Linked DNA regions of Homo sapiens. The protein of the gene in region 5 interacts with the protein of the main gene of each other region in a pairwise test. Each region holds a gene or a part of one and is shown on either strand. Other genes may lie near its edges.

The links.
Region 1: the proteins of PRMT2 (region 5) and R3HDM1 interact in a two-hybrid assay, tested with the Homo sapiens proteins (one large-scale study listed by BioGRID and IntAct).
Region 2: the proteins of PRMT2 (region 5) and RIPK2 interact in a two-hybrid assay, tested with the Homo sapiens proteins (one large-scale study listed by BioGRID and IntAct).
Region 3: the proteins of PRMT2 (region 5) and KDM6B interact in a two-hybrid assay, tested with the Homo sapiens proteins (one large-scale study listed by BioGRID and IntAct).
Region 4: the proteins of PRMT2 (region 5) and ZNF341 interact in a two-hybrid assay, tested with the Homo sapiens proteins (one large-scale study listed by BioGRID and IntAct).
Region 6: the proteins of PRMT2 (region 5) and IQSEC2 interact in a two-hybrid assay, tested with the Homo sapiens proteins (one large-scale study listed by BioGRID and IntAct).
Region 7: the proteins of PRMT2 (region 5) and YLPM1 interact in a two-hybrid assay, tested with the Homo sapiens proteins (one large-scale study listed by BioGRID and IntAct).

What each region holds. Positions count from the first base shown.
Region 1 is NC_000002.12:135,646,484-135,649,983, forward strand, and holds part of R3HDM1 (R3H domain-containing protein 1), read left to right. Parts: intron 1-3,418; coding exon 3,419-3,500.
Region 2 is NC_000008.11:89,771,316-89,774,815, reverse strand, and holds part of RIPK2 (receptor-interacting serine/threonine-protein kinase 2), read right to left. Parts: intron 3,076-3,500; coding exon 3,026-3,075; intron 2,150-3,025; coding exon 1,988-2,149; intron 1-1,987.
Region 3 is NC_000017.11:7,847,717-7,851,216, forward strand, and holds part of KDM6B (lysine-specific demethylase 6B), read left to right. Parts: coding exon 1-2,012; intron 2,013-2,104; coding exon 2,105-2,231; intron 2,232-2,355; coding exon 2,356-2,461; intron 2,462-2,741; exon of another isoform or gene 2,742-3,304; coding exon 3,305-3,500. UniProt on the Homo sapiens protein: Histone demethylase that specifically demethylates 'Lys-27' of histone H3, thereby playing a central role in histone code. Demethylates trimethylated and dimethylated H3 'Lys-27'.
Region 4 is NC_000020.11:33,783,996-33,787,495, forward strand, and holds part of ZNF341 (zinc finger protein 341), read left to right. Parts: intron 1-3,377; exon of another isoform or gene 3,378-3,500. UniProt on the Homo sapiens protein: Transcriptional activator of STAT3 involved in the regulation of immune homeostasis. Also able to activate STAT1 transcription.
Region 5 is NC_000021.9:46,656,174-46,659,673, forward strand, and holds part of PRMT2 (protein arginine N-methyltransferase 2), read left to right. Parts: intron 1-2,571; coding exon 2,572-2,747; coding exon of another isoform or gene 2,748-2,751; exon of another isoform or gene 2,752-3,500. UniProt on the Homo sapiens protein: Arginine methyltransferase that methylates the guanidino nitrogens of arginyl residues in proteins such as STAT3, FBL, histone H4. Acts as a coactivator (with NCOA2) of the androgen receptor (AR)-mediated transactivation.
Region 6 is NC_000023.11:53,241,351-53,244,850, forward strand, and holds part of IQSEC2 (IQ motif and SEC7 domain-containing protein 2), read right to left. Parts: intron 2,122-3,500; coding exon 1,982-2,121; intron 560-1,981; coding exon 434-559; intron 1-433. UniProt on the Homo sapiens protein: Is a guanine nucleotide exchange factor for the ARF GTP-binding proteins.
Region 7 is NC_000014.9:74,769,816-74,773,315, forward strand, and holds part of YLPM1 (YLP motif-containing protein 1), read left to right. Parts: intron 1-1,876; exon of another isoform or gene 1,877-1,931; intron 1,932-3,500. UniProt on the Homo sapiens protein: Plays a role in the reduction of telomerase activity during differentiation of embryonic stem cells by binding to the core promoter of TERT and controlling its down-regulation.

The DNA.
Region 1 (3,500 bases), on a different chromosome or scaffold from region 5:
GTTATACCTCTTTTTCCCTGCAAGACTCAGTATTCCATTGGTGAAAACATGCAGAGTGATTTTGTATGAAAGAAGTATGATGGGCCTGGCGCGTTGGCTCACACCTGTAATCCCAGCACTTTAGGAGGCCGAGGCAGGCAGATCACCTGAGGTCAGGAGTTCGAGCCCAGCCTGGCCCAAATGGTGAAACCCCCGTCTCTACTAAAAATACAAAAATTAGTCGGGTGTGGTGGTATGCACCTATAGTCTCAGCTACTCAGGAGGCTGAGGCAGGAGAATCACTTGAACCCGGGAGGTTGCAGTGAGCCGAGATCAGGCCACTCCACTCCAGCCTGGGTAACAGAGTGAGACTCCATCTCAAAAAAAAAAAAAATTAAATAAATAAGTGAGTATCCCTTAAAAAAAAAAAAAGAAGAAGTATGATGATAAACTTGAACTGGAGAAATTTCATTAATTTTGCTCACAAATGATATCATTTGTATTGCAGGGTTGAAGAACATACAAGTTTAATTACATTATTTAATGGTGTGAAAGTCATAAAAAATAATTGTACTTCTGGCAATTAAGACTCCTAATACTGGGCAAGGCAGTTTTTTAAAAAGAAGAACTTACAAGTTATGGATATACTTCTAAGACCATAGAAATCAGTTAATGTATGTAGAAGAGATTGCCTAAAACTATTTCCACAGACTCCCATATTCCCTTCCCAATCCCATTTGGTTACATACAATGAGCTCGCATAAAACTTCTTCCCTGGCTTTCTCTGCCTTGGCTTCAGTCAGCTTGGTCCCAAAGAGTTTCCTCTTTATTATGCTGTCATGTAGTTGTCTTTGCAGTGCCATGTATTTTACCAGGAGCTTTAAAACACTAATTTTCATTTGGTTTCATTTTTATTTAAATTTCAGTGGAAATAATGTTAATCTGGCAACTTTTAAAAACTCTGGGATTTATCTGTGATTATATATTTCAGATTATTATCTCTTAGAACTTTGTCTGATTTAGTGATAAGAGACAGTTCTAAATGAAGATGTAGGCCACCTAGTTTAGAAACAGATGCTTTAATGAGCTATAATTGGAATTCTTGGGATATTCATCAAATTTCATAACTTATTTTTCTAGCATTGCTCCAAGTTCAGGTAATGCATCATCAGATCCAGAAACAGAGACTCAAAAGTGATTCTCAATGAATACCTTTTGCACAATCTGAAATAATTTATCAATGAGATTGCAAATAACCAAACAAAATAATGCTATGATTTCCAAAGCCTTCAGAAGGGCTACTTTTCTTAGACCTAACGTAAAACCAATTACTTTAGGTGGATGTTGTTTTGCAGCCAGTTGCAATTCAAGTAGGAAAAGGATGTGCTAAGGCTCTTTCTTCCCTAAATGGTGTCAGAATTTCACTTTCATCAATCAATCTTCTAGCCCACAGTTTTTTTCATTACTCTCTGAAATTCGGGAAGACATTAATTCATACCCTTGGTGCTCATAGTACTTTCCTTAATCCCCCAGCTGACTAAAACTTTTGTTTCATCTGACACATAGGAGATCAAGTCATCTGAAAGTTATGTCTTAATGGTTATCTGACTTAATAACACATCAAGTAGCTTGTTCTTGAGAGTTCTAAAGCTATGGCACCTCATGTAGTATAATATGTACTATCATCTGTTAGGAAGCTCACTTATTTCTAGCCATGAGTTTTGTGAGGAACCAGAGGCTACTTCATAGATCTTTCAGCTTTTACTGAAAGATTTTTTTAATGCTTTAATTATAGATTTTTTTGCTTTCTTTTAAGCTTATCTAAGCTTTTGTTTTTTAGAAACCGTTGTGTTGATTTTGTGGTAAAAGTGCAACTCAAATCATTATTATCTATCTATGATGTCATAGACAAACAATGTCTATCTTAGTTGACATAGAAGTTCTCTATTTAAATTATTGCCTGAACAATCTTAATTCCATTAGTTTATCTAACATTTTTAAAGTATTGTCTCTGAAGACAACATGCAGAGATATTGTTCAGAAGGAGATGCATGAATATACATTTTAACTAAGAGTTTTCATCAAGTGAGATTCCCTGGGTTCCTCATCTACTTGCTTATGTGGCTGTCTACAAGTCACTTAATTTACCTTAGTCTAACTGCCTTCTGTAAAGTGGGTTGCTATAGTCTTTAAGCCAATATGTATATTACCGTTTTTGTAATAAACAGTATAAATATGAGAAAATTAAACAGATGCAATTTTAGTTTGTGGATGACCAGCTGTATTCCCAAGATTGAAAAGTGATTACAACTTTAAAAAAAAAAAAAAAAACACCTGTGTTTGAGTGCCCCTGGGAAACATAAAACCCTTTTTTTTCCTGAAACTCAGGAGTATTTCATTAATGGCCAGAGATTTTAAGTAACTAGTTTCTCAGCTCCTAACATGTACTATCTTAATAGAAATGTGTTAATTACAAAGAAAGTGTTTATCTTCCTTATATAAAAGAGGTGTTTGTGTGTGTGTGCATGTGTCTGTATGTATATATGTGTTTGTTGTTCCTTAGGCTATTATTCTTAATAGTTCCCACCATATATATATATTTGGGTTTTTTTTTTTTTTTTTAGACGGAGTCTCCCTCTGGCGCCCAGGCTGGAGTGCAGTGGCGCGACCTCGGCTCACTGCAAGCTCCGCCTCTTGGATTCACGCCATTCTCCTGTCTCAGCCTCCCGAGTAGCTGGGCTACAGGCGCCCGCCACCATGCCCGGCTAATTTTTTGTATTTTTTAGTAGAGACGGGGTTTCACCATGTTAGCCAGGATGGTCTCAATCTCCTGACCTCGTGATCCGCCCGCCTCGGCCTCCCAAAGTGCTGGGATATATTTTTTTACCCAGAGCTTTTTTCTTATAAAATTGCTAAAAGTTAGGGGCTTTGGTCCCAAAAGACTGCTTAATTTCACCTTATCAGTAGGGTAATTGGAATAGTTATTGTGTAAGTTATTACTGTCTGATAGTAAGAATGAAGTTTTTCATTTATAATTTAGTGTTATACTGCAAAATAGGGCAACCCTTTCATAAAACCAGGAAATAATGAGAAGTAGTTTTGCTTTTACTGACTTAACCCGGGGGTCTTTGTTAAATAATAGGATTCAAAATGCCTAAGTCACCTGTTCCCGTTAATCTATAATAAAGAAATATTTTATTGCAAAAAATTATTCTCCTAATTATGTAATAAATTCAGGCGTACATGTTTTTGAAAGTTTTACTGTATTAGAGTTGCTTCACTTTGTATTGTTTTTGTTGTTTCCTATGTTGTTATATTTTAAATGACTTTATAAATGTAGTTAAAGCTATTGCCAAAAAAGTGTAAATTTCCGTTTTATGCAATTCTTCTAACGTTTTATTCTGACATTAACATTGTTTGCCAACCTGTTATTCTTTAGCCTGTTCATCCTCTGCAGTCCTCTTCACAGCCTGTTCAGTACTCTACAGCCCCTTACCCATCCCCGTTCCTGCCAGTCTCAC
Region 2 (3,500 bases), on a different chromosome or scaffold from region 5:
TCTAAGTGCTGGAATGCCTCAGAGCTTTACTATGGGTCCTCTCTTTGCTATGTATATTCCCTTCTTAGATGAACCAGTCCAGACTATCAATATGTTAGTGATGTTCAATTTTATATTAGGATCCTGGACTCTTCCTGGAACAACAGATTCATGTATTGTTGTAGTAGTAGCAGCAGTAATTATGACCGTTTCTACTTGCTGGCTATTATAAACAATGCTGCTATCACTAATCACATACAACTGTGTGAACATATGTTTTCATTTCTCTTGGTTTACCTGTTAGTGGATTGCTTGGTTGTATGGTAAATTTATCTTTCATTTTTAAGAAACTGCCAAACCGTTTTCCAAAGTGGCAGCATCATTTTATATTCCCACCAACAATGTATACGGATTTTGGTTCTGCCACATCACTGTCAACACTTGTTATTTTCTGTCTTTAATTATAGCTATTTTGTGGGTATGAAGTGGTAACTCATTGCAGTTTTAATTTGCATTTCCAAATGACTAATAATATTAAGCATCATTTTATGTGCTTTTTAGCTATTTGTATATCTCCCTTGGTGAAATTCAAATCTTTTACTCATTTAAAAATAGGGCTATATGTCCTATTATTGACTTGTCAGGGTTTTTTATATATTCTAGAATCAAGCCCTTTAGCAGATACATGTTATGCAAATATTTTCTCCCAGTCTGTGGCTCTGCTTTTTTTTTTCCTTCTTGGAAATGAGGTCTTGCTATGTTGCCCAGGTTGGAGTGCAGTAGCTATTCATAGGCACGATCACAGTGCACTATTACACATCCTCAAACTCCTGGGCTCAAGTGATCCTCCTGCCTCAGCCTCCTAAGTACCTGGGACTAAAGTCGTGGACACTAAATGCCTGGCTTTCTCTTTTCTCAATAGTACCTTTCGAAGTGGAAAAGTTTCCAATGTTTGCAAAGTCTGATTATAAATTTTTTAATGAATCCTATTTATTTTTGATGTCATATTTAAAGATTCTGCCTAACCCTAGGTCATGAAGATTTTCTCCTACATTTACATTTGGATGTCTGATCCATTCTACCTCTGAAATACTATCTTAATTCTGTAACTCTTCTGTCTTCAGAATTTCCACCTTAATTAGAATATTCCTGAAAGTGTCTTTTCTAGCCTCTTTGCTTCCACTTTTGTCTTTCTCCAATCAACTTTCCACACAGCAGTAAGAATTTCACCTAAACTTCTATCAGATCATGTCACTTCCCTGCAAAAGATACTTTAATGGCTTTCCATTGCACTTGGAATAAAAATCTAACCTTTTTATGATGGCCAATAGCCTCTCTCTTAACTCTCCAATATCATCTAATTCCTTTCCTTGCTCACTGTATTCCAGCCACACAGGCCTTCTCACTGTTTCTTGAGAATATAAAACTTTTTCCTCTTCTAGGCTCAGAGCCTTTATGCTTGCTGTTTTGTTTGGCTGAATACTCTTTCTTCAGCATTTGAATGACTGGCTCTTTTTCAAGCTTCAAATGTCAGCTCAAATGTTTGCCCCTAAAAAAAGGCCTTTGTTTCCCTCCCTTAATTAGTCTATTACCTTGCTTATTTCCTTATAAGACTGTCACAATTTGTGTATCTTGCTTATTTATTTGTTTTCACTCTGCCTTCTCAACTAGAATGTGAACTAGCTACAGAAAGTTTGTCTTGTTTACTACTCTGTTCCCAGGGCTCACTCCAGTATATACATAGCACATGGTAGGGGTTTAAGACATATTTGTTAAATATATGAAAGAAATTGTTACTCCTATCACACGATTTCTCTTTTTTGTTAGGAATTCTCAATTCTGCTCTAGAAGGAGTTACTCATATATAAATGCTATGATAAGACAGAAAATAATTTAAACAACTTCTAGCTAGTCATCTAATTTGCACAATTTTTCAAGGAATATTTTATTCACAGTATATTAACTAATTCTGTAATTCAAAGAGTCTAGGTTAAAACTATATACTCACTTAAGAAAGATGGTCTTTCATCTGGATTTTGTGCCCATCCACTTTCTATTAGAGAGATCATACGTGCTCGGTGAGGTATATCATATGGCAAACTTTCTTCATTAATAACAGGTCGATGTCCTTGTGACACACTATACATTATCTGCAAAGGATTGGTGACATCTGTCAAAACAAATAGATTGCATTCATTAGTAATATATTATGATTAAGCATATTACTTACATCTAAAACTAACTAAAAGAAAATAAGTGAATATTGAAATTTTAGGAATGATGCCTTACCCCCCTTTCTGTAAAAGGAATATATATACCCCAAACCATTGCCAGACTTGTCTGATTCCTATGGAATGAGTTTATATCCTCACCTCATTAATTTTGGGCTTGACCATGTGATTGGATTTGGTCAACAGAGTATTTGTAAAGCAGAGCTGAGCGAAACCTTGCAGAACTAAGAAGGGCTACAGCAACCAATATTTAATGTGAATGAGAAATAAATGTTTATTTCATAAGCTACGGAGATTCCGAGGTTGTTTTTTGTTACACAACAAGCTGACCTACACAAACCTCAAAATAAAGAAATAAACAATATTTTCAGGGAATAAAAAGGACAGATTAGTCTTCGATATTTGCTAGTCTTTATAGAGGGGGTAGTAATTAAATTATCATATAAATAATTTTACAGCTAGACTAGAACTTGGAAATAGTAATTTAAAATTCTTATTATGCAGGCGACAAAAATGAGGACGCAAGAGATTTGTGACTTGATCACAGAGCTAATTACTGTCAGAACAAGAATTAAAATCTGGGTTTTTCTGATCCTTAATCCAGTACATTTTCCAGTATATAGTAGACTCACAACTGGATCCTTAACCCGGTATATTTTGCAGTATGTGATGCATTCACAACTGATAAATGGTTGTTTTAGTGTGTTTTCCACAAAATGAATAAGCAGATTTAAAATAACATGATTTTTAGATAGTTCTGAGAGTGACCTACTAACATGATGTTATTGAGCATAAAAAAGTCAAACCATACTTACCTTCAAAAGGCTGTTTTCTGGATAACACTTCCCATGTGATAACTGCATAGCTGTTTAACATAAGAACATACATGTTACATATTTTAAATGAACTCTGCATAATAAACTAAAATAGCACTATTTTTAAAAGCTGACTGAAGATACCATTTTTCAAAGTGATAAGGCAGCAAAGAATTACTGTATACAATGAAGATGATAAATGCTCATGTAGTTTGGAAACAAAATCAACTTTAAGTTAAAAAATTAGGAAATTACTGTAATACAAGCTTAACGTTACATGCAAGATTAACTTTTTGTGGATGATTTAATTCTTGGACACCCAGATAAGCTATGCCCTTTAATTAAATGATATTATTTTTCACAAAGAACAAAGAACAAGAAAAAAATTGTCTCATGGAGCTCTATTCTACTGCCTTTTTTCTGCTCTCAGCACTATCTTCTTTGGTAGTAGAAATATCTTGCCTACAGTTTAACT
Region 3 (3,500 bases), on a different chromosome or scaffold from region 5:
TTACGCCCCCCACCACCCCCTGCCTGGTTGAAGGGTCCGGCCTGCCGGGCAGCCCGAGAGGATGGAGAGATCTTAGAAGAGCTCTTCTTTGGGACTGAGGGACCCCCCCGCCCTGCCCCACCACCCCTCCCCCATCGCGAGGGCTTCTTGGGGCCTCCGGCCTCCCGCTTTTCTGTGGGCACTCAGGATTCTCACACCCCTCCCACTCCCCCAACCCCAACCACCAGCAGTAGCAACAGCAACAGTGGCAGCCACAGCAGCAGCCCTGCTGGGCCTGTGTCCTTTCCCCCACCACCCTATCTGGCCAGAAGTATAGACCCCCTTCCCCGGCCTCCCAGCCCAGCACAGAACCCCCAGGACCCACCTCTTGTACCCCTGACTCTTGCCCTGCCTCCAGCCCCTCCTTCCTCCTGCCACCAAAATACCTCAGGAAGCTTCAGGCGCCCGGAGAGCCCCCGGCCCAGGGTCTCCTTCCCAAAGACCCCCGAGGTGGGGCCGGGGCCACCCCCAGGCCCCCTGAGTAAAGCCCCCCAGCCTGTGCCGCCCGGGGTTGGGGAGCTGCCTGCCCGAGGCCCTCGACTCTTTGATTTTCCCCCCACTCCGCTGGAGGACCAGTTTGAGGAGCCAGCCGAATTCAAGATCCTACCTGATGGGCTGGCCAACATCATGAAGATGCTGGACGAATCCATTCGCAAGGAAGAGGAACAGCAACAACACGAAGCAGGCGTGGCCCCCCAACCCCCGCTGAAGGAGCCCTTTGCATCTCTGCAGTCTCCTTTCCCCACCGACACAGCCCCCACCACTACTGCTCCTGCTGTCGCCGTCACCACCACCACCACCACCACCACCACCACCACGGCCACCCAGGAAGAGGAGAAGAAGCCACCACCAGCCCTACCACCACCACCGCCTCTAGCCAAGTTCCCTCCACCCTCTCAGCCACAGCCACCACCACCCCCACCCCCCAGCCCGGCCAGCCTGCTCAAATCCTTGGCCTCCGTGCTGGAGGGACAAAAGTACTGTTATCGGGGGACTGGAGCAGCTGTTTCCACCCGGCCTGGGCCCTTGCCCACCACTCAGTATTCCCCTGGCCCCCCATCAGGTGCTACCGCCCTGCCGCCCACCTCAGCGGCCCCTAGCGCCCAGGGCTCCCCACAGCCCTCTGCTTCCTCGTCATCTCAGTTCTCTACCTCAGGCGGGCCCTGGGCCCGGGAGCGCAGGGCGGGCGAAGAGCCAGTCCCGGGCCCCATGACCCCCACCCAACCGCCCCCACCCCTATCTCTGCCCCCTGCTCGCTCTGAGTCTGAGGTGCTAGAAGAGATCAGCCGGGCTTGCGAGACCCTTGTGGAGCGGGTGGGCCGGAGTGCCACTGACCCAGCCGACCCAGTGGACACAGCAGAGCCAGCGGACAGTGGGACTGAGCGACTGCTGCCCCCCGCACAGGCCAAGGAGGAGGCTGGCGGGGTGGCGGCAGTGTCAGGCAGCTGTAAGCGGCGACAGAAGGAGCATCAGAAGGAGCATCGGCGGCACAGGCGGGCCTGTAAGGACAGTGTGGGTCGTCGGCCCCGTGAGGGCAGGGCAAAGGCCAAGGCCAAGGTCCCCAAAGAAAAGAGCCGCCGGGTGCTGGGGAACCTGGACCTGCAGAGCGAGGAGATCCAGGGTCGTGAGAAGTCCCGGCCCGATCTTGGCGGGGCCTCCAAGGCCAAGCCACCCACAGCTCCAGCCCCTCCATCAGCTCCTGCACCTTCTGCCCAGCCCACACCCCCGTCAGCCTCTGTCCCTGGAAAGAAGGCTCGGGAGGAAGCCCCAGGGCCACCGGGTGTCAGCCGGGCCGACATGCTGAAGCTGCGCTCACTTAGTGAGGGGCCCCCCAAGGAGCTGAAGATCCGGCTCATCAAGGTAGAGAGTGGTGACAAGGAGACCTTTATCGCCTCTGAGGTGGAAGAGCGGCGGCTGCGCATGGCAGACCTCACCATCAGCCACTGTGCTGCTGACGTCGTGCGCGCCAGCAGGTGAGTCGGCTGCCTGCTTGCTTGTCCCGGAGACAGGCTCCCTTCCCCCATCACCCTGATGTTTCTGTCTTCATTCCACTGTCCTCCCGCAGGAATGCCAAGGTGAAAGGGAAGTTTCGAGAGTCCTACCTTTCCCCTGCCCAGTCTGTGAAACCGAAGATCAACACTGAGGAGAAGCTGCCCCGGGAAAAACTCAACCCCCCTACACCCAGCATCTATGTATGTGTGCCACTTGGCCTCAGAACCACCCCTGCCAGAGGGTTCTAAGACAGTGTTGGGGACTGCTGGGGTGCTCTGAGCCTGGGCCAGGGCTCTGACCCCAGCTCTCCTGGTCATGTCTCAGCTGGAGAGCAAACGGGATGCCTTCTCACCTGTCCTGCTGCAGTTCTGTACAGACCCTCGAAATCCCATCACAGTGATCCGGGGCCTGGCGGGCTCCCTGCGGCTCAGTGAGTATGGGGGGCAGAAAGTGTTAGGGAGGGCTACAAGGGTCTGGGGCATGTAGGACCCTCTGAGAAATCCCACACTTGAAGACTCATGACAGTGGCCGTGAGGAGTCCACTGAGTGATGGGTCTGCTGGCCTTGGGCTCTTCTCCCATCTGTCTGTCTCCAGCATTTGGCAAGGGAGAAGGGGCCATAGTCAGGGCCTGATTAGTCATTTCTGAATTTTTTGGTGATTAAGGAAGAGAATAATACAGATTTTAGAAAACCCCTGAAAATCTGTGATGTTGGGGCTCTCTCTCAGTCTTTTATTGCGCAGAATTTCAAACACATACAAAATTAGAGAAAGCTGTATAGAAATACAAAGGTCAATCTTGTCTCCTTTATACCTGTATGTTCTCCCTTCCCCACACTGAGTTATTTGAAGCACATTTCAGGCTTTCACTTGACTGAATCTTTAATCTTTAATTGGATCCAATGGTAACTCAAAGAAGCTGCTGTTTTGACTAGACTCCAAATGGGGAAAAAAGAAGCTGCCATTCATTGAGCACCTACTATGTGTCTGTCAGGTGCGGTGCACATGGCCACGCACACATCTGGGAACACTGGTCTAGGGGCTGAGTCCTTGAGCAGCTGCAGGAGAAAGAGGGCTGGTGAGGATGCAGATAGAGGCCAGCACTCCCAGCTTCCTGTGGGGCTAGGGCTCCTGCCTATTTCTTCTGGGCTGAGCTCTGCTAAACCTATGACCACCCTGTCAGAGCCAGAGGAGTAGGAAGGGAAAGGGTCGATTGGGTCCTCGGTCCCTATCCTCTGCCTCTGCCCCGACACCCTGCTCGGCCCTCCCTTCCAGACTTGGGCCTCTTCTCCACCAAGACCCTGGTGGAAGCGAGTGGCGAACACACCGTGGAAGTTCGCACCCAGGTGCAGCAGCCCTCAGATGAGAACTGGGATCTGACAGGCACTCGGCAGATCTGGCCTTGTGAGAGCTCCCGTTCCCACACCACCATTGCCAAGTACGCACAGTACCAGGCCTCATCCTTCCAGGA
Region 4 (3,500 bases), on a different chromosome or scaffold from region 5:
TTCTCCATCTCCCTCCCCATCTCACTCAGTCCCTCCCCTCATCTCTCTCAGCCCCCGTCTCCCTCCTCCTCCCCATCTCCCTCCTCCTCCCCATCTCCTTCCTCCTCCCCATCTCCCTCCAGCACCCTTCTCCCTCCTCTTCCCCATTTCCTTTCCCCTCTCCCTCTCCCTACTCCTCTCCCTCCCCCCTCCCTCCGCCTCCTCACCTCCCTCCCTCTCCCCATCTCCTTCCCCCTCCCCCATCTCCCTCCCTCTCTCCATCTCTCTCCCCCCCATCTCCCTCACCCTCCCCATCTCCCTCTTCTTCCCCATCTCCCTGCAGCCCCCTTCTCCCTCCTCCTTCCCATCTCCCTCTAGCCTCCCTTCCCCTCCCTCTCCCCATCTCCTTCTAGCCCCCTCCAGCCTCCCTCCCCTGTCCTCTCCCCTCTCCCTCCAGCCCCCTCCCCCTCCTCTCTGTCGCTGTCTGTCTCCCTCCAGCCCTCCTGCCTCTCCCCTTGCTCCTCCTTCCTCTCTCCTTCCTGGCCCCTGATCCACCTGCCTTAATTCATGAACAAGGGATTCCCACCACCGCTAAAGCAGAGAAGAGCCCCTGGAGGTTGTGTGGAAGGGACTTTTTATTCTTTTTTTTTTTTTCTTTGAGACAAAGTCTCGCTCTTGTTGCCCAGGCTGGAGTGCGGTGGCAGATCTTGGCTCACTGCAACCTCTGCCTCCCGGGTTCAAGTGATTCTCCTGCCTCAGCCTCCTGAGTAGCTGGGATTACAGGCTCCCACCACCATGTCCAGCTAGTTTTTTGTATTTTTAGTAGAAACAGGGTTTTGCCATGTTGGCCAGGCTGGTTTCGAACTCCTGACCTCAGGTGATCCTCCTGCCTCGGCCTCCCAAAGTGCTGGGATGACAGGCGTGAGGCACTGCACCCAGCCTGTGTGAGGGACTCTTGACTCTGCCCCCTGTGGTGGGGACACTGCTCTCACTGTAAGTTCCCACTCAAACCTGAACAAAACGCCATCTCCTTGGTTCCCCAGTTGAAACACACTGACATTTTCTTTTCTATTAATCTTTAGATTTTTTTATTAGTTAAATTTTTTAATTGCTTTTTAATTGAAAAGGATCTAAAGATTGAGAAAACTTGAGGGAAAATCCTTGACGGGACAAAAGCATATATAAAAAAATAAACTCCCTCTCACTTCAGATGGACAATCCAATGTTTTTCCTTTTTTTTCTTTCCTACGACCTATGGTAAAAAATACATTTCATATTGCAACCCAGGAAGCACACATAGGATGTATTGCAACAAAAGTTTTACAAAACAGTGTTTTCTATTTTGTCCTTTTCAATTTTAGTTTTTTTATTTTTTATTTTTATTTTGAGACAGGGTCTCACTCTGTCACCCAGGCTGGAGTGCAATGGTATGATCTCACTACAACCTCCGCCTCCCAGGTTCAAGCCATTCTCGTGCCTCAGCCTCCCGAGTAGCTGGGATTACAGGCGCCCACCACATGCCTGGCTAATTTCTGTATTTTCAGTAGAGACGGGGTTTCACCATGTTGGCCAAGATGGTCTCAAACTCCTGGCCTCAGGTTACCCACCCACCTTGGCCTCTCAAAGTGCTGGGATTACAGATGCAAGCCACCACACCCAGCCTATTTTTAATTCTTAAAATAACCACCAACAGGGTGTAACTTGTGGTTTGCAGTTTGCAAAATACTCCTAATTCTCTTCCCCAAAGGTAACTGTTAGCGGTCTAGTCTGCATTCTTCTAGTTTTATTTTACACATATATAAAACGCTTGCTTACGTTTGCAAAAATGAGCACATACTATAACTTATGTGCCTTTTTTTCCTTATCATATACCTTGGCGATGTTCCCCAAGGAATGTGTGCTTACAGTTCCCCTGGAGGCTAAATTCTGTGGGTCCCCCTCCCCCGGGCCCCCCCCAGAAGTTGTTACCAACAGCACCTTCTTTTTCACATCTGAGTAGTCTTCCTCAATGAATTTTTCATCTTGTATTTAGCCAGTTCTCTATGTATGAACCTTTTTTTTTTTTTTTTTTTTTTTTGAGACTGAATGGCACGATCTTGGTTCACTGCAACCTCTGCCGCCTGAGTTCAAGCAATTCTCCTGCCTTAGCCTTCCAAGTAGCTGGGATTACAGGTGTGCACCATCACGCCCAGCTAATTTTTGTATTTTTAGTAGATATGTGGTTTCACCATGTTGGCCAGGCTGGTCTCGAACTCCTGACCTCAAGTGATCCCCCCGCCCCAGCCTCCCAAAGTGCTGGGATTACAGGCATGAGCCATCACGCCCAGCCTATGTATGAACCGTTAAATTACATTTCAGCTATTAGTTTGTACACACAATGCTGTGTGGGTCCCTTGGCAAGCTTTTGGAAGTGTATCTGTAGTGTATATTCTTAGGAGTGGAAATGCTAGGTTAAAATGCATGTGTAATACTGAGTTTCAGTTTGGGATGATGAAAAAATTCTAGAGACAGATGATGGTGATGGTTGCATGATGGTGCAAATGTACTTATGCCACTGAACTATACACTTAAAAGAAGCTTAAGATGGTCAATTTTCTGTTATGTATATTTCTCCACAATAAAGAAGGGAAAAGAAGTAATGCATTGTAAGTTTGATATTACCAAATTGCTCTTTATGGCTTTTAAAAATTATTATTCAAAAGTAATACATGCTGCCAGGCGCGGTGGCTCATGCCTGTAATCTCAGCACTTTGGAAGGTGAAGGTGGGTGGAGCACCTAGGTCAAGAGTTTGAGACCAGCCTGGCCAACGTGATGAAACCCCGTCTCTACTAAAAATACAAAAATTAGCCGGGTGTGGTGGTACGCACCTGTGATCCCAGCTACTCAGGAGGCTGAGGCAGGAGAATTGCCTGAACCCAGGAGATGGAGGTTGCAGTGAGCCAAGATCAAACCACTGCACTCCAGCCTGGGCAACAGAGCAAGACTCTGTTTCAAAAAAAAAAAAAAAAATACAAAAAACGAAACAAAACAAAACAAAAAAAACCACACAAATAATACATGGTTATTATAAAAATGGAAACAATATAGGAGTACATAAAGTAAAATGTTAAATTTCCCCTTCAAGTTGTAGTTGCCACTGACACTTTGGTCTGTCCTTTCCCTACACCTCCCCATCTTTCTTCCTGCATCTTCAGTTTATTTACAGAGACACATGGCCAGGGCTTTTTTGGGGTGTGCAGGTTGTATTTTTTCTTTCTTTTTTTTTTGTTGGAGCTTACATATCCAGTAGGGATTATATTTTTTTCTAAGAAAGACGAGATTGTGTTAAGCTGTTCTACTGCTTTCTTTCCCCACTAGCAGTATGTCCAGGAGATCTTTCCAGATCAGGAAACACAGATTGACCTTTTTAATCTTTTTAATGACCACAGAGCATTCTATTGTAGGGACCAGCATTTCCGTATCGACTGGGTTGATGGTTTTTCAGAAGTACTTTATTCATTCCAGAGGGAGAACAGAGAGG
Region 5 (3,500 bases):
CGCCCACTTGCCTCTGCTCCCACCCTGTGGTCTCTGCACGTGCCAGCTCCCCTTTGCTTTCCACCGTGAGGGGAAATAGCCTGAAGCCCTCACTGGATGCCCAATCCTGAACTTTCCCAACCAGCAGAACCATGAGCCAAATAAACCTCATTTCTTTATAAATTACCCAGCCTCAGATATTCCTTTTTGGCAACACAAAAATGGACTAAGAGAACTAGAGTAGCTGATAGAATTTTTTAAAAGAAGGGTAAAGTTGGAGGAACTATACTACTTGATTTTGAAGCTACAGTAATCAGGACAATGTGGTGAAGGGACAGACACGTAAGTCAATGGAATGGAGACGAGAGATTTCTACAAATATGGTCAATGGGTTTTTTTTAACAAAGGTACAAAAATCAATTTAATGGAGAAAAGACAGTCTTTTCAGCAAATGTTACTGGAATAGTTGTCATCCATATCTAAAAAACAACACCTCAACCTCACATCTCATACACAGCTGAACTTAAAATTGATCATAGATCTAAGTGTGTGAAATGTAAAACTATAAACCTCCTTGAAAAAATCATAGAAAATCTTCATCACCTGGACTTGGGCAAAGACTTTTTACTCTAAAAGCGTGATCCATAGCAGAAAATGTTGATAAATTGAATTTCATCAAAACTAAAAATGACTGCTCTGCAAAAGGATGATGCTAAGAGAATAAAAAAGACAAGCTAAGATTAGGAGAAAATATTGCAAAGAACATATCCAGTGTGTGTTCTGAATATACAGAGAAATCTCAAAACTCAACAGGAAGAAAACAAGCCAATTGAAAATGGGCAAAATACTTGAACAGACACTTTACCAAAGTGGATATACAGATATCAAATACACACATGAAAAGATGTTCAGCATAGCCATCAGGGAAATGCACATTAAAGCCACAGTGAGATATCACTTACACCCATTGAAAAATGACTACAATAAAAAAAAAATCTGATAGTAATACCAACTGTCATCGAGGATGAGGAACAGCTGAAAGTCATGCATTGCTGGAGGGAACATGCCACTGTGGAAACAGGTGGGTGCTTTCTTATAGACTTGTATGTGCACTCACCTTATGCCCAGGAGTCCCTCTCCTGTGTGTTCAACCCAGAGATATGCAAGCTGTGTTCACACAAAAACCTGTATGTGAATGATTATACTAGCTCTCTTTATAATTGCAAAAAAAAAAAAAACAAAACCTGGAAACAACCCAAGTGTCCTTCATCTGGATAATCCTTAAGGATAAACTGGTGCGTCCACACAGTGGAATACCACTGAGCAGTGAAGAGGAGCCAGTTATTGAAACAGGTAATTTGGAGGAACCCCAGAAACGGTACAGTGAGTGAAAGAAACTTGTCTTGAAAGGTTATGTACTGTTTGGTTCCATTTGTATGATATTCTCAAAAAGACACAAGACCATGGGGATGGAGACCAGATCGGTGGCTGGAGAGGCTGGGGTCGGGGAGGGCATGACCACCAGAGAAAAGGGTGAAGAGTGTTTTGGGTGGCAGAGCTGTGTGTATGCTGGCTGTGGTTGTGAGGACAAAATCCACACAAGCGCTCAAGTTCGTAGGCTGTACGCCAGAAAAGCTGTTTCACTACATAACTGAAAAAATAAGATTGAAAAATAAGATGTATATATTTTTTGTGTGCGTGTGTAGAAAAATACTTGAAGGTAAACTGCAGAGTGATAACAGTGGTTCCTTCTAGGTACTGGGTTAATATGTGATTTTTATGTTTGTTTGAGCTTTTCTAAGTTTTCTACATTTTCCGTACAAAACATGTATTACTTCTGTAATAAAAGCAGCTTGAGATTATTTAAGGAAGCAAAACACTTCTGTTGTTTCTCATCAACTACAGGATGAAGTGCAGGCTCCCTGGGTGGTTTGCAGGGGCCACAGGCCTTGGCCCCACCTCGCTGGTGCTCCCTCTACTCCTTTCTGTGTTTGAAGCAAGTTCTGGTTCAGACAGAAAGCCTGGCCTTTGAGGGCGTTGGGTCCCCACTTCCTCAGTCATAGATGTGATGTGCTTCCCTTGACTTGGGACCTTCTGAGGGATGCAAGGTGGACCAAAGGACCCGTGAATGGCCAGGGCATGCCTGCGTGGCTTTCGGTTTCTTAAGCAGTGATTTCAGTCCACTTAAAGGGTGTGAAAATTCTGAGAATGCTACGGACCAAATATATTTTATGTAACAGTTGGGACCCGGCAACACTTCAGGGCTCTTTCAAAATCTGGTAGCTACGAGCTCTTCCGTGACTGAGATGGGACAAGAGTGAAGATTTGTCCTTGCTTTTAGCTCTGCTCCAGTTCATAGTTCTAATGGGAAATTATGTGACTTAAACCCAGGCTGTGAGATGCATCAGTGACGTGTGGGCATAAAATAAACCCTCGAGATGTTCTCTTGCATGGTACACTGGCCTAGGCAGGAATATTCTTGAGGCTAAAACTGTAGAACTGTCAGACTAGTGTTACGAATGTGGTGGTGAGAGGCCTGTGCAGCCGCGGGGCCTGTGATGTGTCTCCTGTGTGTCTTTCACTCCTATGCAGTTTGAGTTCATGATCGAGTCCATCCTGTATGCCCGGGATGCCTGGCTGAAGGAGGACGGGGTCATTTGGCCCACCATGGCTGCGTTGCACCTTGTGCCCTGCAGTGCTGATAAGGATTATCGTAGCAAGGTGCTCTTCTGGGACAACGCGTACGAGTTCAACCTCAGCGCTCTGAAGTAAGTGTCCACAGCTGGGACTGGCACCGTCTTGTGGGGCCTCCTGGTCCACAGTCTGCAGGTGGGCCAAGGCCCTGGGAGATCCCATACGACGGTTGGATAAATGAGGGTACCTGTGCACCCAGATAGGACAATCTGTTGTAGCATTGGAGTAATTAAAGCAGTATGGTGCTATAACAAGACAGATGGGCAGAGCAGGGTAGAATGCAAGGAACAAAAATTTTCGTATGTGAAAAAGGTGGCATTACGATTAGGAGGGAGTGAGGGCCAAGTCAGCAAATTATTCTGGAGCAGTTGATTAGCCCTTGTTCTCTCACGCCATACGTGAAAACTTAATTCTGCATGGAATCAGCGTCAGCGACAGACATCCATGGGGGCCTGTGTGCACCATCTTAGGTGGAGAAATGAGCAGCAACAATGGATGGAATGGACCCTGGGCTAGATAGAATCTGGCAGTCTATGTGGCAGAAATCAGCAAAAACACGATTGTAAAAGCAAACAAGTAATTAGAGAAATCACGTGCTGTCAGGTCTTGGAATCAATTAGAAAGAGATGACTAGCCAGATGGAATTGCAGCCCAATCATGTGAACAGGCAAACCGCAAAAAATAAATAAAATTACCAATAAATATATGAAAAATTATAATGTTGTTAGTAGTTAAAATGCGAATTAAAATACATGCTGTTTTCCCTACCAGACAAGCAAAGAGTAAATTAAAATAGTAGCCCAGGCTTGCCTGGCAGTGGCAGGGAG
Region 6 (3,500 bases), on a different chromosome or scaffold from region 5:
AACTGCCCTGGCCTCCCAAAGTTCTGGGACTATAGGTGTGAGCCACAGTGCCGAGCCCACTTCAAGCATCTTGATTACTGAAGATTTCCAGACTGACCTGGGGGGTCGCAGGTTCACCCCTCTTCACACAACCCTATGGGCTATTGAGGTGGACAGGGATATTTCCTACCACTTCCCAGGTTGTAAGTCTGTCATCTCCTTTGGTCCTCATATTTTCTGTCCCTGTGTGTCTGTTACTACCTCCAAATGCATCTGTGAGGAAAAGGAGGGGCAGAGAAGGCCTGGGCCTTGCCTGAGACCATGCAGATGGCATGGCAGAACACCTCGCCCGCCACACTCCACACACCACACACCTACATCAATATGGTTCACACCAGACTTAGGTGTCAAGCTCACTCTCTCCCTCCCATCTCCTCCCCCACAGTGCTCATACCACAAGGAGATCATTGAAGAGGAAGACCTCCCGCTGATGCAACCCTAGCCTCTGGGGGCGGTTTGGATCTGGCACCTCGTAGAGCTGGCAGCAGCAAACCAGTCGACGGTGAGGGAGAGACAGGACCTAGACAGGCATGAAGAAACAGGTGTCAGCAAGGCCAGCCCATCAGCTTCAGGCCTCCTGGCACCTTAACTTTCAACCGCAAGAAGTTTACCACTCATACATGTGTGTCACTCTGACACAAGGGGTATCAGCAACTAAGACCTAAACTTATCTGCTACCTTGCCTTTGCCCTTCTGTCTGGAATGTCTTTCTTGCCCAGCTCTGCATGGTCATATTTCAACTCCCTTTCAAATTTCCATCCCGGCCGGGCGCAGTGGCTCACGCCTGTAATCCCAGCACTTTGGGAGGCCGAGGCGAGCGGATCACTTGAGGTCAGGAGTTCGAGATCAGCCTGGCCAACATGGTGAAACCCCGTCTCTACTAAAAACACAAAAATTAGCTGGGTGTGGTGGTGGGCGCCTGCAATCCCAGGTACTCAGGAGGCTGAGGCAGGAGAATCGTTTGAACCCAGGAGGTAGAGGTTGCAATGAGCCGAGATCATGCCACTCCACTCCAGCCTGAGTGACAGAGTGAAACTCCATGTCAAAAAAAAAAAAAAAAAAAAAAAAAAATTCAATCCCAAAATGATCTCTTCCAAGAAGCCTTCCCTGATTTCTCCAGGCTGAAAATGGTCTCTCTCTCCTTTCTCCTCTCCTAAACTGGACCATAAAGCAGAAGTATTATATGTGTCTTTGTTTCACACCCCGACTGGTCTGTGAGTGCCCCCAAGGATAGAGAACACGTCTGATTCATATCTATGAATGCCCAGCACCAACTCTGGTGCCCAGCAAATGCTGGGCTCAGTGGAAAGGCATCCACAAATGTTTGTTGGCTAAAGCGTTTTCTTTTTTTTTTTCTTTTTTTGAGACGGAGTCTTGCTCTGTGGCCCCAGGCTGGAGTGCGTTGGCACGATCTCAGCTCACTGCAACCTCCGCCTCCCGGGTTCAAGCAATTCTCCTGCCTCAGCCTCCTGAGTAGCTGGAACTCCAGGCATGCACCATCACGCCCGCAGCTAATTTTTGTATTTTTAGTAGAGACAGGGTTTTGCCATGATAGCCAGGCTGGTCTGGAACTCCTGACCTGAGGTGATCCACCCACCTCGGCCTCCCAAAGTGCTGGGATTACAGGCACAAGCCATTGTACCTGGCCTAAAGTGTGTTCTTACTTTGGTTTTCTGCTAACCATTAGCTTGGCTCTTCACTTAGGATGGACAGGCAAAGCCGGAGGTGAAAAGGATGCTAATATTTATATAGTACCCACTATGGGCCTTGGAATGTGCTCGATGCATTCACTCTGCACCACAGCCTTCTGAGGAATGCATTATCACCCACTCTGTATTGCAGGTAAAGGGCACCTGGGGCTCAGGGAGGTGCAGTGACTTACCACTTAGTGGCAGAGGCAGACCTGAACCCTGGCCCCTCTGCAGCCTCCCAAGGCACTTACTGGTTTCTTTCCAACAATCATGCGCTCCACAGCCTGCACCTGGGACACATGGTCATCGTTGGTCCGCAGTTCACGCCCCTGGATGCGCTGGTAGATGCCCACCAGGAGGTCTCGGGGGATGTCTTCACCATTGTCAACCCCTGGGGGAGGGAGTAACACAGGGATATGTCACATAATTATGGGCACTGGGTGGTAGGGGTGCTCCACCACCCCCACACCCAGGCACGGGCCACGATAGTCAGGACTGAGGGTCAATGGGTACCCTCGGCCCCTTAGCCAGGATTGGGGCAGGGAGGGTGTCCTTCAGTACAACAGCCAGTTGCTATCTTCCCCAGAGTGGGGAATTTTTTCTCAACAACTCAGAATACACTGTAATTAAAACAATCAGATACTATTGTTTGCCTTCCTAATTAGCAAAAATAATTTAAAATGAAATCCAGTGCTAGGAAGAGTGCAGGGAAGTGGGCATGTATGGTAACATAACTCTTTTGGAAGGTAATTTGGCAAGAACCTAAATGTTTGTACCCAGTGATTCTCTTCTAGGAATCTACCCTAAGGAACTACTCAGAAATATGTGCAAGAGGTATGTGCAAGAATGCTAGTGCAGGCGGGGCATGGTGGCTCACGCCTGTACTCCCAGCACTTTGGGAGGCCGAGGCAGGTGGATCACGAGGTCAGGAGATCAAGACCATCCTGGCCAACATGGTGAAACCTCATCTGTACTAAAAATACAAAAAATTAGCCAGGCATGGCACCATGTGCCTGTAGTCCCAGGTACTCGGGAGGCTGAGGCAGAATTGCTTGAACCCGGGAGGCAGAGGCTGTAGTGAGCCAAGATCGCGCCACTGCACTCCAGCCTGAGCAACAAGATTGAGACTCTGTCTCAAAAAAAAAAAAAAGAAAAAGAAAAAAAAGAATGCTAGGGCAGGCGTGGTATAATCCCAGCACTTTGGGAGGCTGAGGCAGGTGGATCGCTCGAGCCCAGGAATTCGAGAGCCAACCTGGGCAACATGGCAAAATCCCATCTCTACAAAAAATACAAAAATTAGCTGGGTGTGGTGGCACACACCTGTGGCCCCAGCTACTTGGGAGGCTGAAGTGGGATAATAGCTTGAGCCTGGGAGGAGGAGGTTGCAGTGAACCATGATTGCACCACTGCACTCCAGCCTAGGCAACAGAGCAAGACCCTGTCTCAAAAAAAAAAAAAAAAAACTCACTAAGTGTTACTTATGGGGACAATTTGAAACAACCTAAATTTTAACAATAGAGGATAGTATATCCATTTAATAAGATAATGCACAGCTATTAAAAACTTGACATTTACAAAAACATTTCAATAGCATGAGAAAATTACAGTAGCAAATTATGGGAAAAGAGTAAGATAAATTGCATGTGTGGTATGATCTGAACTATATAAAAAGTTACATATGCATGGGGGAAAAGATTAGAACGCACCAAAACATTAACTATGATTGCCTCTAGGGGGCACATTTTGGGTGATAAAAAGAAATTTTCTAAT
Region 7 (3,500 bases), on a different chromosome or scaffold from region 5:
GGAGTTCAAGGCCAGCCTGGGCAACAAAGTGAGACACCCCCCCCCCCGCCCCCCGCCCACAAAAAGTTTAAAAAACTAGCCAGGTGGCCGGGCGCAGTGGCTCACGCCTGTAATCCCAGCACTTTGGGAGGCCTAGGCGGGCAGATCACGAGGTCAGAAGATCAAGACCATCCTGGCTAACATGGTGAAACCCCATCTCTACTAAAAATACAAAAAATTAGCCGGGCGTGGTGGTGGGCGCCTGTAGTCCCAACTTCTCAGGAAGCTGAGGCAGGAGAATGGTGTGAACCCGGGAGGCGGAGCTTGCAGTGAGCCGAGATCGCGCCACTGCACTCCAGCCTGGGCGACAGAGTGAGACTCCGACTCAAAAAAAAAAAAAACCTAGCCAGGCATGGTGTTGCATGCCTGTAGTGCCGGCTACTTGCGGGTGGCTGAGGTGGGAGGATTGTTTAAGCCCAGGAGTTCTCGTGCCACTGCACTCTAGCCTGGGCAACAGAGTGAGACCTAAAAAAAAAAAAAATGAGTAGGCCAGGTGCAGTGGCTGATGCCTGTAATCTCAGCACTTTGGGAGGCCAAGGCAGGCGGATCACTTGAAGTCAGGAGTTCAAGACCAGCCTGGCCAACATGGTGAAATTCTGTCTCTACTACAAATACAAAAAATTAGCTGGGTGTGGTGGTGCACGCTTTTAATCTCAGCTACTTGGGAGGCTGAGGTGGGAGGATCACTTGAACCCAGGAGGCAGAGGTTGCAGTGAGCCAAGATTGCCCCACTGCTCTCTAGCCTGGGCGACAGAGTGGGACTCCATCTCAGTTAAAAAAAAAGAAAAAGAGTAGAAATTAACCAGAAGTTAGAATTCAAAGAATTAAGTTCAATAAGGCTCACTGAAAGCTCAGGGTGAGGATGGTAGGTATGAACTAGATCAGGGAAGGCCTGTAAGGACTTCATTCTAAGGGCAGTTGGAAGCCATTGAAGGATTTTACATAGGTGAATGTGACAGATTGGCATTTTTGAAAGCTCACTCTGCTTGCAGTGTGGAGAGCAGAATTAAAAGGAGCAAGAGTGATTTAGAGAGAATAGTTATTGAAGTAATCCAGGCAAGAGATAATAGTGGTTTAGACTTTGATGGTATTAGTTGAGATGGAGAGAAGTGGGAAGAGTGGAGAAATATTTAGCTGCTAGAATTCACTTTGAGGTTGAGTAGTTATGGAGAGGGAGGCATCAAGAATGATTCTTAGGTTTCTGGGCTGGGCCGTAGGGTGGATGGTGGTCAAATTTACTAAAACAGAAAAACCTAAAGGAGGAGGAGGAAGAACATTTCTGGGGGTGAGGAGAAAATCATGAGTTAGGTTTCAGACATACTGAGTTTGGGGTTCTTGAGACATAGATTCCAAATGGAGATGTCCACTTGGAAGTTAGATATAGCTCTGGAGTCTAGATGTAAGATCTGGGAGACATAGATTTATAAGTCATCAGCATAAAAATGGTATTTGAAGACACAGAAATAGATGAAGCCTCTCAAGGAATGTGTGTAGAGTAAGAACTGAGGTTAAAGGACATTAAGCCTAGCTCCACAAATAGCAGTATCTAAGGGAACCAATGAAAGAATGGCCAAATAGGTATTCATATTAGGTTGGTGCAAAAGTAATTGCAGTTTTTGCTATTACTTTTAATGGCAAAACCACAGTTACTTTGGCACCAGTGTGATAGGTGGAAAATCAAGATAGTGGATAGTGCGTTGCCATGAACGTCAAGGAACAGACTCTAGGAGGAGGGAGTCGTCAGCTGTGTGAAGTACTGCTGAGACGTCAAGCAAGATAAAGACTGCGAGTTATCTTTTGCACCTACTGACATGTAGATTATTGTTGACCTTGGCAGGAGCAGTTTCATAGTGACTGAAGCCATATTGCATTGATTTGAGGAGTGATGGAAGGTGAGGAAATGGGGATGGTGAGTACAGACAACTCTTTCAAGAAGTTTGACTGAAGGAGAGAGAGAATGAGGGAAGGAGCTGGAGGAATAGATGAAGTAAATGAGCATTTAAAATAAAAATAGGTGGGGACTAAGCTTATCTGGTGACCCTGATTCTTACAGTAGAATGTGAATCTCAAAAATATTTAAGCCTATTTTAAATAAATTTCTAAAATGGAAACCCAATTCATTATTTTACCAGGTGTCCTCCCTGCCCCCTGCTTTAGAATATAAGACATAGAACATTGTCTTATAGGCATTTATGATAACCTGGATAGGGAAGGTAATCTTCTAAAATTAATCTTTAAAACATTACACACAAACACTCACCTCCTTTATAGTTCTCCACTTGGAAAATCATTTAGTATCTAGTTCATTACTAGCAGCAGTGGTCAGTAAGTGCTTCCTGAGTAAATTAAAATCAACATCTTTCTTTTTTTTTTTTTTTTCTCAGAGAGATGGGATCTTGCCATGTTGCCCAGGCTGGTCTGAATTCCTGGGCTCAAGCGATATTCGTGCCTCGGCAGCATCTTTCTTAATAACAGTATTTGTGACAAATAGTTCTATATTCTTAATTTTTTTTTTTTTTTTGAGATGGAGTCTCGCTCTCACCCAGGCTGAAGTGCAGTGGCGCGAGGATCTGGGCTCACTGCAACCTCCGCCTCCCAGGTTCAAGCGATTCTCCTGCCTCAGCCTCCCGAGTAGCTGGGATTACAGGCATGTGCCACCACACCCAGCTAAGTTTTGTATTTTTAGTAGAGACAGGGTTTCACCATGTTGGTCAGGCTGGTCTCGAACTCCTCACCTTGTGATCCGCCCGCCTTGGCCTCCCAAAGTGCTGGGATTACAGATGTGAGCCACCGCACCCAGCCAATAGTTCTACATTCTTTATGTTTGAAATCCCTTCATTCAATCTCGTTTTAAATGTGACCTATATTATGATTTCCCTCTACCTATAAAACAACATCCCATATGAAATGGAGTTATCTGATATGATGGGACATTCAGAAGAGCTGGCATCATTAGCAAGTTCAGGCATTTTTTTTCTTTCTAAAATAGGGATGATCACACTTCTCTTAGGGTCAGTAAGGACATTTGTGAGTGATATCATTATTATTTATTTGCAGAGCTTCAAAAATGTGCTGAAGCCTACCATAGGATTGAATTAGATCTGGTTACTACTTATAGGGTTCATATTAAATAGAAATTGACCTACAAGGCGGCCGGGCACGGTGGCTCACGCCTGTAATCCCAGCACTTTGGGAGGCTGAGGTGGGCGGATCACAAGGTCAGGAGATCGAGACCATCCTGGCTAACATGGTGAAACCCCGTCTCTACTAAAAAATATAAAAAATTAGCCGGGCGTGGTGGCGGGCGCCTGTAGTCCCAACTACTCAGGAGGCTGAGGCAGGAGAATGGCGTGAACTCGGGAGGCGGAGCTTGCAGTGAGCCGAGATCGCGCCACTGCGCTCCAGCCTGGGCGACAGAGCGAGACTCCATCTCAAGAAAAAAAAAAGAGAAATTGACCTAC